Linked DNA regions of Homo sapiens. The protein of the gene in region 2 purifies or fractionates together with the protein of the main gene of each other region. This does not show direct contact. Each region holds a gene or a part of one and is shown on either strand. Other genes may lie near its edges.

Region 1 (7,000 bases), on a different chromosome or scaffold from region 2:
CGTCCCCACTCCACAAAAAAAAGAGTGCATGCATTATAGTACACTAAGTAAGTCTGCCAGATTTAGATGCTGCGACCTGATGGTAAACCAGACAGACAGGAAACAAGTTAACATATTCTTAAATAAGATATTTCCAGGTCTTCAGAGGATGATGTGGTAAAGGTGGGAAGGTGGAGGGCTTTAGTTAGGGTAGTCAGAAGAGACTCCTCTGACAAACTTATCTGAGCTAAGCAGGAGGAGGCAGACGTGGGAAGAACCGAGGGTGAAGTGTCCTTAAGAATAACCAAGCATAAGAGCACAGAAACAGAAACAAGCTAACGGCTGGGTGCAGTGGCTCACACCTGTAATCCCAGAACACTTCGAGGCCAAGACGGGTGGATCACCTGAGGTCAGGAGTTCGAGACCAGCCTGGCCAACATGGTGACACCCCATCTCTACTAAAAATACAAAAATTAGCCAGGCATGGTGGCATGCACCTGTAGTCTCAGCTACTCAGGAGGCTGAGGCAGGACAATCACTTGAACCTGGGAAGCAGAGGTTGCAGTGAGCCGAGATTGCACCACTGCACTCCAGCCTGGGTGACAGAGCAAGACTCCATCTCAAAAAAAAAAAAAAAAAGAAACAAGCTCATCAAGTCTGAGGAACAGGAAGGAAGCCAGTGTGGCTGACTGTGATGAGGGAGTGAGAGAATGAGGGAAGATGAGGTTGGGAAGTCCAAATCAGAAGGGATTTTATTCTGGTTGCAATGGGAAATCATCAGAGGGTTTTAAGCAGGAATGAACTGACTACCTACTTTCATTTTTGCTAAAGTCATATTTGTATTAAATTTATATTTTTAAAATCTAAAATATTTCTGTTGAATTGCCTATTTCTAAATCAAATTCTAAGGGCTATCAATTATATTGGACATTTTACCATTAATAAATAGAAAACATTTGCACATAGAAACATATTTCTAAGTTGTAATTCCTATGACAACAATAAAAACCATCAAAGGTCTCAATAAAAATTATACCACCAATAAATAAAAACTTAGAAAGGAAATAAAAGATAACTACCCTTAAAAGATGTTAGGATTAATTCCATAATCATGCAAGAGTATAATTCCATTAACAAAACATGTGGTGGTATAACTCAACTGTCATAATCTTTCTACCAAAGGGGATAATCCAACAAAATTCTGTCACATGGCAATACTTTAAAAACCCACTCTATATTTGAATGCACATCCAAACAGCAACTAACTTTTTAAAGAAAATTACAATTGCTAACAAGAAAGGCCTATTATTCAACCATAATTATTTAAATTCTTCCTCCTTTTCCAGCACTCTATATATAGCTTTCCAAGGTTCTATCCATGGTCTTCATCTCAGATAGCCTTTATGTCTACTCCCAAAATTTTAACTATCACTTTTCAAAAAGCTTGCAAATCTAACTAGTTTTTGGATTTCTACCCTGAACTTTTGTCTACCATTTCTAATCTTCTGAATGACTGGTTAAGATTATTTGTCCTAAGACAAAATTCATAATTTTCTTTTCCAAATCAATCTACTCTGCTTGTTCATGACACTGTCCCAGCTGTCAGACTCAAACCATCAAGATATGCTCTGCTGGACTCTCCTTCACTGCAAAGCAGCCACAGTGAGTGCAATGACTCCCAAGTATTTCCCCTCCTACCTTCCCGCCACTGCCTTCTCCCCTCCCCCCACCCTTCCCCTCTACTTCTAGGCCAGTCTCCTCACTTCTTTACCGCCTGCTCCTGGCTCTCTACTGTAAGACTGCTGCCCACTCCAATTCATCCTGAACAGCCAACTGAATCTTCCTAAGGTCATACTCTCATTATATCGCATTCCTGTTAATTACCTTTGAGATCCATCTCAGGAAACTTTGGGAACATTAATTTGTGTGTGAAAGTATTTTGTAAAATAGTCAAGTGATATAGGCAGAGGTTATCCTTGGAGGTTTATTTTGTTGGTGGACTTTAGTTCCTCCAAACCCAGGAAAGCAAAGATACATAATCAGTGGAATTCCAGAGCCCTGGGAGTGGTCTAATGCTTATCAACTGATTAGAAATAGTTTTCACCTTCAAAGATAATCCCCACCCATTCTCTCAAGCTACTTTCTTTTCAAAAAAATTTTTTTGAGGAGTCTTGCTCTGTTGCCCAGGCTGGAGTGCAGTGGTACGATCTCGGCTCACTGCAACCTCCACCTCCTGGCTGATTCTCCTGCCTCAGCCTCCTGAATAGCTGGGATTACAGACATGTGCCACCATGCCCAGCTAATTTTTGTATTTTTAGTAGAGATGGGGTTTCACCATGTTAGCCATGCTAGTCATGAACTTCTGACCTCAGATGATCCGCCCGCCTCCACCTCCCAAAGTGCTGGGATTACACACGTGAGCCACCAAGCCTGGCCGCTCTCAAGCTACTTTCTGGGTTGGCTTATAAATACCGTAAGTCTTTAATTTATCCCAATACCAGGCTTGATGCTCTCATGCTGGCTTCCCAAACCACTTCATTTACAATTGAGAAAGGAAAAAATGGTACATACCATAATAAGCCCTACCCTGCCTATCTGCAGACACACATACATACACACACAAAGGCTACGAGATTAAAAAAAAAAAGTTTTAGGACTCAAAATACATTTGAAAATTCTTGGCTGAGCATGGTGGCTCATGCCTATAATCCCAGCACTTTGAGAGGCAGGGACTGGAGGATCACCGGAGACCAGGCAACATAGTAAGACCCAGTCTTTACAAAAAAAGAAAGAAAGAAAGTTATTGCCAAATAGTGATTTCAATTTTTTTGGAAGACTAATTAATATCAGTGTTTACATCCTTCCACAATAGTAACTTCCCACCTCATTTTCCAGATAATTAACTAGTTTTATACAATTTCTTTAAAAAGTATCCTAAAAGTAAAAGAAAGAAAGTATTTACTGGGTGCTTACTATAAGCCAGGGCACTGCACTTAGCTCATTTAATCCTCATAGTAATTCTACAAAATATTATAATCTTTCTATAGGTGCAGACATTGAGACTCAGGAAGATTAAATGGCTTTGTTTCTGGTATTTATTAACTGGTAAATACAGCCTTTGAAAGTTGGTTGCCACCAAAAAACAGGAATGCTTTGGATTCCAAAGTCACACTCTTTTCACATTTTTCTGAGTGGAGAATAATCCATTTGATAAAGTGAAGATTCAATAAATTCCCAATATTCAATAAATTCCCAATTTCTACTTAAGGAAAAATAAAACCAAAGAGGTTAACACAAAAGTAACTAGAAATATAAATTTTCTAAAGTACACTTAGTGAAGCATAAAGATATTAATTAAACCAACAATATCACAAATGTTTTAACCCACATGTTAGTTAACATAAGAAGATTCACACAAAATGTTTATTCACTAAGTTTGTGGCAAAGTCTGGGTATCCTTTCAGTGGGGAAAATACACTATTTCTATTTCTAACACAATTTTTCTAAACAGTGATACTTACCCTTCTTTTGTATAAATATCCTAAGCAGTGGATTGGCCGTTGAAACAGCTTTGTGATAATTATCATCATTATTTATAGGTAGTAAGTCTCCATGGATGTCTGCATAGCCTACCAAAACGTCAACATTGGGGATCTTATGAACATGTTGTAGTAATCCATAAAACTCCTCAAATTTTCCAGGTTTTGATCTTTCCAGCGAAAACCGACGAAATTCAGCTCCAAACTATAAACGTAACAAACATATTACTTAAAAAAAAAAAAAAAAGTAAAAGGACCCAATTTGAAAATGCATGCCATAGAAAAATTAACGAGCAGAGCAAGTATTTTTAATTAAGGAAAGATTGTCTATTGTGAAGAACCTTACTATCAGGGATTTTAAAAAGCCTAAGAAAGGCACAAGAATGTGCCTCCTGACTGCTGTGTCTCTGAAGAGCATTCCTTTCAAGAGAGGCAGGCTCAACTCTATCTATCCCTGGGGTACCTAGGCCTTACTGCGGACTGTTCTGCATAGTGACTCAGCTCAAACCCTGTCTGGAGCCCAGACTCTGACGGCAATGCTCTCCTCAGGTGCATCATGGGGTACCAAAGACTTGTCCAAGTCCTTATTTTGACCAAAGGAAAGCATTTAAGTGTCCTCCCCCATAAATGGAACTAGGATTTCATGGTATGTGGTAAGAATCAACAGCAAAATATACAAAAAGAACTGTGAGCTACGTGGCGTTAAGGTATGATCTTCCCTATGTTAATGCAGAAAAAAATAAGCTTCAGTAATACATCAAATGTATGTCCTATAACTATCCAATTAACGCACAAAGTGTTTATGTGTTTGGCACAGTGCTAGGCCCTAGAGATTGAAAGCCTCGAGCCTGCTCCAGAAGCTCACCAATTAGTGGGTAAAGAGAATAATTACTTCAGGGAGGTATTAAGAGATCACACAAATGGGGCGGAATGGGGAGGAAGACAGCCTCCATCATGCCCAATACTTACCTTCACAGTTCTGATTCTGAAGTCTGTTTCCCTACACCTCTGTTTTCCCAATGTCAAATAATTAAAAGTGACTCTTATTCAACACTAAGAACTGAGGCCAGGCGCGATGGCTCACATCTGTAATCCCAGCACTTTGAGAGGCTGAGGCGGGAGGATCACAAGGTCAGGAGTTCAAAACCAGCCTAGCCAACATGGCAAAACCCGTCTCTACTAAAAATACAAAAATTAGCCAGGTGTGGTGGCACATGCCTGTAGTCCCAACTACTCAGGAGGCTGAGGCAGGAGACTCTCTTGAATCTGGGAGGCAGAGGTTGCAGTGAGTCGAGATCATGCCACTGTACTCCAGCCTGGGCAACAGAGCAAGACTCCGTCTCAAAAAAGAAAAAAAAAAAAAAAACCAAAACACTAAGGACTGGCTTCATCTAGTCCATGATAAACAGGATTTATAACACTGTGGGAATAACATGGCATTTCCTCAAACGTGGAAACCTAAGAAAAGTTAATCTGCCTTCCTCAAAAAGTGTCCCAGTCATGTAAGTTTGAGAAACGCTACATAATTATGCTCTTGGGAATCACTGCGGAGACCAGCACTTTAAAGGCTCATTTAAGCCCTATGTTGGTTTTTAAAAATATTTAAACGAACGTTTGCCTAATGTGTTTAACCACTGAACTCATATTTCTTCCACCTATCTATTACTAGCAAGAAATACTAATGTAAAAATATTATGTCCCAGAGAAAAAAGGAAAAGAGAAATACTGTTGGTACAGCCTTAAGCATCATGTAGAGAAAGCCCCTACCATAATAATTTGAGTTTACAAATATGTCACTTCATTTTCCCAAAGGTCCCATGGGACATCTGGATTCACTGGTTTTGCTCTATCTAAAGTTCACCTGCTCTGCTTACACCCATACTCCTCAGTGGTTTTAACATCAAAACTCACTAAAAACACCTCTTACCTCTAACAAAAATTAAAATAGTTCCCAAAACACATTCCTGAAACATAAACACTAACATCTGTCAAGAAAATAAGGTGACTCATACCTAAGGCTCTCAAAAAGTTTAGTCACACCTTCACATTTCAAAGTAAATAAAAACTCAGGGAACACCCTTCATATCAGTTAGTCTCATGATGTTATCAAAAGTCACAGTTTCTCCTCCATTTTCTTTATTCTGGTATCACAACATGAAGTTGCTAGTGCTTGCTGATTCATCCACAGGGTTTATCACTTCCCCTGATGTATGAATGGGAATAACATCTGATCATTTAACATTTTAGGGCTTCAATGTTTTTGTTAAAGCTTTTGGATGAAATTTCTTCGCTCAATATTTTCTCTTGCTTAACTGTTATGATAAAAACAATAAAAAATTGTATGGCTTCATGGTATATTTGCACTTTTGCCAATATTGGCATGGGAAAAAAAAACCCAAGAGAAATTGTTATGCTTCTTGCAACACAACAATAGGATTAAGGGAACTTTTTACATGAACAAAAACACTAAGAGACAAAATTAAGATTCAATCAGCAATTATTCACTTGTGAACCATTTACAACTGTTTCATAGCCTAGTTTGCCCTAGCCATCCAGAATGTGTATGGACTCCCTTCCCCCAGTGTCTGTTGGTACATTCTAGAAATGCAAACTTAATTTTCATAGTCTATTTGCCTATGAATAATAATTAGGAAATTTTATGACTCAAAGACTGTTCCAGGGTTATTAAAGGACATCATCAAGATTATTGATTAAGAATCTTCCCAACACTAGAGATACAATTAGGAAGATAAAACAGTTACCAAAGAAAAGTCACATACTAGCTGGTACCACAAATTGAACTATAGGTATATTTACATTCTCCATTCTTTTATCATTACTATTTTTCCCTTCCACGTGTGAAGATAATAATGTTGACACTACTGCTTTATTGCATTTTTTTATTTTTTTGAGACAGAGTCTCCCTCTGTCACCCAGGCTCTGAAGTGCAGTGGCGCAATCTCGGCTCACTGCAACCTCCGCCTCCCAGGTTCAAGCAATTCTCCTGCATCAGCCTCCGGAGTAGCTGGGATTACAGGCATATGCCATCACGCCCCACTAATTTTTATATTTTTAGTAGATACAGGGTTTCACCGTGTTGGCCAGGCTGGTCTTGAACTCCTGACCTCAGGTGATCCGCCCACCTTGCCCTCCCAAAGTGCTAGGATTACAGGTGTGAGCCACCATGCCTGGCCAACATTACTGTTTATATGAAGAAAAAGAGATCCTAAAAATGGACCGGAACCCAGTGTGGTGGCTAATGCCTATAATCCAAACACTTTGGGAGGCCTAGGTGGGAATATCACTTGAGCTCAGGAGTTAGAGACCAACATGACCAACATGGCAAAACCCTGTCTCTAAAAAGATAAAAAAAAATTGAAAATAGTAAGAGAAAAATGGACCAGCTAGGTGCAGTGGCTCACGCCTGTAGTCCCAGTACTTTGAGAGGTAGAGACGGGCGGATCACTAGAGCTCAGGTGTTC
Region 2 (7,149 bases):
CAAAGCCACACAGCAGGGTTCGCCTCACCCAGTTTCTTGGGGAACTTCTCGGAGCAAGATTCCCAAGCACAGGTCTACCATGTGGATGTGGCATGAGCTAGAGGGATCTGTGCCTGTGGGGACTGACACTTGTCTGAGAGTTTGAGGATCCGTTCAAGCCGATTCCTTTCCTTTCAGGTCCCTTTCCTTGCAAAGCGATTACCAGAATCCTCTGGCTGACCACTAGGCAGGGGTAGGTATCCATGCTGGTCCTCTTTCCTCTCCAGAGCCTTCCTGGAGGGCTAGAAAGGTCACTTAGGCCTCTGCCTGGGAAGTTGGTGCCAGTGAACACTCTCAGGTCCCGTGTTGGGGTCTTGGACACCAGGGAGGGGAGACAGGGTAGACGCTATTCACGTCTCTCAGCGGCCCAATTCCTGCCAAGTTCATTCTTGCTCCTTTCTTCCACCTTCCCAGAGAGACGGTACTGAGCAGCAGGTCTTAAACTCCTTTAGTTGGCAGCCCTGTTTCTTCAGACAAAATCACTCTGGGTGATGTTCAAACAGAATTGGTGGGGGCACCCAGCATGAGGCAGGAGTGGCTGCTGAGACTCAGAGCCCCCAGCCTGGATGCCCTCACCTTACCTCCAAGTCCTCCTGGGCTGTAGCAGTTGGAAGGAGATGGGGTCCAGTCTCCCCTGCTCCTGGGGACCTTGACTGAGTGGTGACTTTGATTGCCGGCCTGTGGCTGTTGAGGCTGTGCCAGGAGCCCCAGCCCACTGCCGCTCCTCTGTGCCTGCCAGGTTGCCCTTCACCATCTTCCAGGGTGGCATGCCACGGGCCAGCTACGGGGACCGCCACTGCATCTCAGTGATCCACGATGGCCAGCAGACGGCCTTCGACTTCACCTCCCGTGTCATCGGCTTCACTGTCCTCACAGAGGCAGACCCTGCAGCCAGTAGGAGAGCTTCGGGAGTGGGTGCCCAGGGTTAGGTGTGGGAGGCATGGGGCAGGACCATCAGTAAAGACAGGGCCAGGTGCAGTGGCTCCTGCCTGTAACCCCAGTGCTGTGGGAGGCCAAGGTGGTAGGATCGCTTGAACCCAGGAGTTCAAGTCCAGCCTGGACAACGTAGGGAGACCCTTGTCTCTACAAAAAATAAAAAAATTAGCCAGGTGTTGTGGCACGTACCTGTAGTCCTAGCTACTCAGGAGGCTGAGGTGGGAGGATCACTTGAGCCTGGGAGGTGGAGGTTGCAGCGAACCAGGATCATGCTACTGTACTCAGCCTGGGTGACATAGCCAGACTGTGTCTCAAAAAAAAAAAAAAAAAGGGCTCTGCACAGATGTTCCTAAGCCTACCACTGTCCTGAGTCCCTTAGCCTCACTGCACCCCAAGGTGCAGTGTCATCAAGCCCTACAGCTCCTTTCTCTGCCTCCCTGCCACCCTCCCCAGCTAGAGACCCAGCCCAGCCACACCTCCTGTCTGCCCCGGGCTCTCTGCCCTTTCCAGACTGTAATGGGACTTAGCCCACAGGGGGCTGATCTGTACTGTTGGATTTAACACCCACCCCGCTGAGGCAAGAGGGTCCTGGCTTAGAGATGGCAAAGCCCGCCTTCTGGGCAGGGCAGAAGGTGGCTGTGCAGCCTCCTGGAGCTCCAGCAGGACCGGCAGAGCCCTGAGTCAGCCTCGTAAATTGTGTGACAGGCAAGACCAGAAAGGGCTGATGTTGAAACCTGGAGAGGAGCCCTGCAGGAGCTCTCCAGGAGGGAGGGCCCTCTCCTAATGATGCTGGCCTGAAAGGGCCTGAGGCCGAAAGGTGAGGGGGCGGGGCTGTTCAGGACACCTGGTCTGTGTACTCACGGCCTCTATCTACCCTGTTCAGGGGAACCCCAAACCTGCTTTTCTTTCTTTCTCAGCCTCTCCTCCCTCCTCACACCCTGGATGCTGAGAGCAGGGCCCAGCTCTGCTCTTTCCACAACATTTGGGCCATGTTGGCACAGAGCGGGGGCCTCTTGGGCTATGGTGGCCACACTCCCCGGGCTAACTGAGTTACCTGATTCCCAGCGGAAAGGTCAGGAAGGGAGGGAAGAAACTTGCTGAGCTACAAATTCGAGACTGCTGGGGCTTTCTAGGACAGGCCACCTTCCTGCAATTGTCCCTCTGTGTCCCCAACTCCCCGCAGTCCCGCAGGCCAGGAGGTGGGTGCCTGATGAGCGGTGCTTCCCTCAGATGATATGTGGGCACCCTGAAGCTCTCACGTAATGGTTCTGCTGTGCCGGGTTGTGACCCAGCTGTCCTTGGTAGGCTCTCCTGTTTAATGAGCAACTGCTATATGCCAGGCCCTGTTCTAGAAACAGATGAGGCCCCTGTTCCCATGGAACTTAGATCTGAGTATGTGGACAGAGTGAGTAGGTTGCCAGATAATGTCAGAGGTAAGAAAAAAGCCAGGCAGAGGACAGCAGTGCTGGTTTAGACAAGGGTTGGCAAGGCCTCCCTGATAAGGGGACGTATTTGCGCAGACACGGAAGCAGTCTGATGGAAGGCTTGCCCTGTAGGGACCTGGGGTGCAGACTGAGCTGGGAGGGCTCTTGGCTTGCTCCAATGAGGTAGGGGCGAAGAGAGGGCAGAATGGCCCCCGTGCTGGTCCAGATGTGGCCAGCGCCAGATCGTATAGAGCCGTGGAGGCACGGTAAGGACTTGGGGTTTGAGGGAGATGAGGGCCCTGAGCAGGGGTGCCATGATCTAGCCTCTGCTCCAGAAGGATCTGTCTGGCTGCCATGTGGGGGACACGGAGTGGAGCAAAGACGGGAGCCCAGTGAGAGTCGAGGGAGAGGTGACCTCAGCTTGGGCTGCGGTGCAGGCCATGGGACTGGCAGGAGGTGGCTGGGGTTACGCTGTCTTTTCTAACATTCAGCATTGGCTCAGGGGCCAGGTCAGGGCTCACAGACTGTTGCTATAAAGGGCTGGGTGGCTTTCTTCCCCACAGCTACTCAGCCTAATGCCATTGCAGAGCACATGTAGCCATGGACAACACAAGGGGCGTATCCGTGTTCCAGGACAGCCATATTGACAGGAATAGGCAGGAGGCCAGATTTGGTCCTCAGGCTGTAATTTCTTGGCCCCTTGTCTAGGGAGAGGTAAACGAGGGGAGGAGAGATCAGTCAAGGATGACGTGAGGGTTTGCTGGGAGCACCAGGAATCCTGGAGAAGGTAGTGGCAAGAGGGTGCAGCAAGCTCAGCTGGGCGGGGATCAAGTCTGAGGACTTAATGTCTCCTCTGATCTCCAGACCCATAAGGGAGATGCTGAGTAGACAACTGGGGCTTATGGGTCTGGAGTTCAGAGGAGAGATCGGGAAGGTGTCCATTTGGAGTCATCCACGCAGAGATGTGTGAAGGCTGCTCAATGATTTTGAGGTTTAAAGAAAAAAAGAGATGTGAAACCAGGGGCCCTGATGAGGCTGCCCAGGTGGTAAGGAAGACAGAAGAGAAGCCATGGGACAGCTGAGCCCGGGCACCCTCAAGCCTTGGAGGCATGAAGTTTGGTGGGGATCTGGCAAAGAACACCTGGGAGCAGCCAGCGGGCAGCAGACCCCAGAGTAGCAGGGAAGACAAGCACTTCAAAGAGGCAGCGTCAGCCAGGGGCAGTGGCTCAGCTGTAATCCTAGCACTTTGGGAGGCCAAGGATGGCAGATCACCTGAGGTTAGGGGTTCGAGACTAGCCTGGCCAACATGGTGAAACCCTGTCTCTACTAAAAATAAAAAATTAGCCAGGCATTGGTGGTATGTGCCTGTAATCCCAGCTACTCGAGAGGCTGAGGCAGGAGAATCTCTTGAACCCGGGAGGCAGAGGTTGCAGTGAGCCGAGATCATGCCATTGCACTCCAGCCTGGGCAACAAGAGCGAAACTCCGTCTCAAAAAATAAAAAAGAAAAACAAAAATTAGCCAGGCGTGGTGGTGAGTGCCTGTAATCCCAGCTACTTGGGAAGCTGAGGCAGGAGAATCGCTTGAACCCGGGAGGCGGAGGTTGCAGTGAGCTGAGATCGCACCACTACACTCCAGCCTGGGTGACAGAGCAAGACTCCATCTCAAAAAAAAAAGAGAAAAAAAAGACTGGGCACAGTGGCTCATGCCTGTAATCCCAGCATTTTGGGAGGCCAAGGTGGGAAGATCACTTGAGCCCAGGAGTTCAACACCAGCCTGAGCAACATGGCGAAACCCTGTCTCTACCAAAAATACAAAAGTTAGCTGGGTATCGTGGCTCACACCTGTAATCCCAGCTACTTGGGAGCCTGAGGCAGGAGGATCGCTTGAACCTGGAGGTGGAGGTTGCAATGAGCCGAGATCACACCACTGTACTCCAGCCTGGGCGACAGAGTGTGAAACCCTGTCTCGAGAAAAGAAAAAAAAAAAAAAAGACAAATGGTTTAATCATCCAGCGCACATTTATTGAGCACTAGCTGGGTCCAGGCCTGAGTGAGGTGATGTGATTGTGTGCAGTAAAGAAAATGCCACCCCTAGCAACTGGTGTGCTGAAGACCACGCGTGCTGCTGCCTGTGGGGAGAGGCTTGACAGGTGCATCTGAGCAGGGAGAGCAGGCCCCATGGAGGAGAAACCAGGGAAGAGGGTTGGCAGGCACAGCTGCATGCCTCTGGGGTGCCTATCCTGGTTGGGACCCTGCCTTCCAGCCAGGTGTATCCCCCCAGGAGCCCTGTGCCAGGGAGCTCTCAGCAGCCTTGCATGCAGAGCCAGGGCTACTGCCCACACCTGCTGCCCTCCTGGAGATGGAAAGGCTTTGCTCAAGCAGCCAAGAACAGGGCTTTCTGGATCTGCAGATGCCCTGGCTCCAACCCTGGAGCTTCTGATTCCACAGAGCTGGGCTGCTTCCTCCTGGCCCCGGCCCCTGACCCTTGCCCTGTACCCCAGCCTTTGACGACCCCTATGCCCTGGTGGTGCTGGCTGAGGAGGAGCTGGTGGTGATTGACCTGCAGACAGCAGGCTGGCCACCGGTCCAGCTGCCCTACCTGGCTTCTCTGCACTGTTCCGCCATCACCTGCTCTCACCACGTCTCCAACATCCCGCTGAAGCTGTGGGAGCGGATCATTGCCGCCGGCAGCCGGCAGAACGCACACTTCTCCACCATGGTAGGTCTGGCCCTGGCCCCAGCCCCAGCCCCACCGCAAGCCAAACTCTCCCATGGACTTCTTGGTCTCTTTTTCTAGGAGTGGCCAATTGATGGTGGCACCAGCCTGACCCCAGCCCCACCCCAGAGGGACCTGCTGCTCACAGGGTAGGGTACTTTGATGCTACCCCACCTCTTCCCAGTAGGATATGTGGGGTGGGAGCAGAGCCCTGAGGTGGACGAGCCAGCCCCTGGGCATCCCGGCTGGCATCCCTCTCACGCCTGGCAGGTGGGTTCTGCCCACAGGCACGAGGACGGCACGGTGCGGTTCTGGGATGCCTCGGGTGTCTGCCTGCGGCTGCTCTACAAACTCAGCACTGTGCGCGTGTTCCTCACCGACACGGACCCCAACGAGAACTTCAGTGCCCAGGGCGAGGACGAGTGGCCCCCACTCCGCAAGGTGAGGCCAGGAGCCTGGGACCCAGGAAGGGCAGAGGCCAGCTGGGTCCTGTCCCCGTGGCTGCTCACAGGGCCCCTCCCCTTCTCCAGGTGGGCTCCTTTGACCCCTACAGTGATGACCCCCGGCTGGGCATCCAGAAGATCTTCCTCTGCAAGTACAGCGGCTACCTGGCTGTGGCAGGCACGGCAGGGCAGGTAGCAGGCTGGGCTGGGGAGGGGGAGCTGGGGAGGAGTGGTCGATGACTGGGGACAGCAGGGACAGGAGCCAACCACCTGCCTAACGCACATTCTGTGTCCTTTGCTTTTCCGGTGGATGGAGGTGGCTTGATCCCCTTGGCGGGAGGTCCCTGGGATGGTTGTTTCTTCTCCAGAAATCGGAATTAAGGGCTGGGCCGGGCACGGTGGCTCATGCCTGTAATCCCAGCACTTTGGGAGACCAAGGCAGGCGGATCACCTGAGGTCAGGAGTTCGAGACCAGCCTGGCCAACATGGTGAAACCCCATCTCTACTAAAAATATAAAAATTAGCCAGGCATTTGTGGCTCGTGCCTGTAATCCCAGCTACTGGAAGGCCGAGACAAGAGAATCACTTGAACCTGGGAGGCAGAGGTTGCAGTGAGCCGAGATTGTGCCACTGCGCTCCAGCCTGGGCAACAGAGCAAGACTTGTCTCAAAAAAAAAAAAAAAAAATGCAGGAGAGCTGGGGTTGGACAGAGGCCTTTGTCCTTCCTTGAGCCTTGGGCCCAGCTCCTTTGCTGTCCCCACTAGTAGCATCCTGCGGCCCTGCCGTCCCTTTGCTGAGGGCTTGCTGAGCCACCTGCCACCCTGCGCAGGTGCTGGTACTGGAACTGAATGACGAGGCAGCGGAGCAGGCTGTGGAGCAGGTGGAGGCCGACCTGCTGCAGGACCAAGAGGGCTACCGCTGGAAGGGGCACGAGCGCCTGGCAGCCCGCTCAGGGCCCGTGCGCTTTGAGCCTGGCTTTCAGCCCTTCGTGTTGGTGCAGTGTCAGCCCCCGGCTGTGGTCACCTCCTTGGCCCTGCACTCTGAGTGGCGGCTCGTGGCCTTCGGCACCAGCCATGGCTTTGGCCTCTTTGACCACCAGCAGCGGCGGCAGGTCTTTGTTAAGTGAGCAGGGGCGGCTGGGTCCCGGGGCTGGGAGTGGGGCCCGCGAGGACTCCCAGGACCTAGCAGCACTGACAGCCTGCCATCCCCCCAAGGTGCACACTGCACCCCAGTGACCAGCTGGCCTTGGAGGGCCCACTCTCCCGCGTCAAGTCCCTCAAGAAGTCCTTGCGTCAGTCATTCCGCCGGATGCGTCGGAGCCGGGTGTCCAGCCGGAAGCGGCACCCGGCTGGCCCCCCAGGAGAGGTGAGGCCTGAGGTGAGGCTGCGGCCGGCCACGCACCCAGGTTCGGCTCAGAGCAGCCAGCAGGGGGGCCACACGGCCCCTGCTCCCCAGGCTTGCTAGGCTACAAACAAGATTCAGGGTCCAGGTCGCATTGTGTGACCTCAGACAGGTCACGCTGCTTCTCTCTGCCTCAGCTTCCTGAGCAGAAAGGCAGTAACTGTAATGCTTATCCTAGAAGTAATCCCC

What was found. The genes of interacting proteins can lie anywhere in the genome.
Region 1: the proteins of LLGL2 (region 2) and PARD6B purify together in Homo sapiens (affinity purification with mass spectrometry; 9 studies listed by BioGRID and IntAct, with this or other methods). This does not show direct contact.

Annotation. Positions count from the first base shown.
Region 1 is NC_000020.11:50,734,580-50,741,579, reverse strand, and holds part of PARD6B (partitioning defective 6 homolog beta), read right to left. Parts: intron 3,724-7,000; coding exon 3,501-3,723; intron 1-3,500. UniProt on the Homo sapiens protein: Adapter protein involved in asymmetrical cell division and cell polarization processes. Probably involved in formation of epithelial tight junctions.
Region 2 is NC_000017.11:75,563,575-75,570,723, forward strand, and holds part of LLGL2 (LLGL scribble cell polarity complex component 2), read left to right. Parts: intron 1-177; coding exon 178-232; intron 233-778; coding exon 779-933; coding exon of another isoform or gene 934-968; exon of another isoform or gene 969-1,149; intron 1,150-4,901; coding exon 4,902-5,119; intron 5,120-5,197; coding exon 5,198-5,265; intron 5,266-5,403; coding exon 5,404-5,557; intron 5,558-5,646; coding exon 5,647-5,751; intron 5,752-6,388; coding exon 6,389-6,681; intron 6,682-6,773; coding exon 6,774-6,924; coding exon of another isoform or gene 6,925-6,936; intron 6,937-7,149. UniProt on the Homo sapiens protein: Part of a complex with GPSM2/LGN, PRKCI/aPKC and PARD6B/Par-6, which may ensure the correct organization and orientation of bipolar spindles for normal cell division.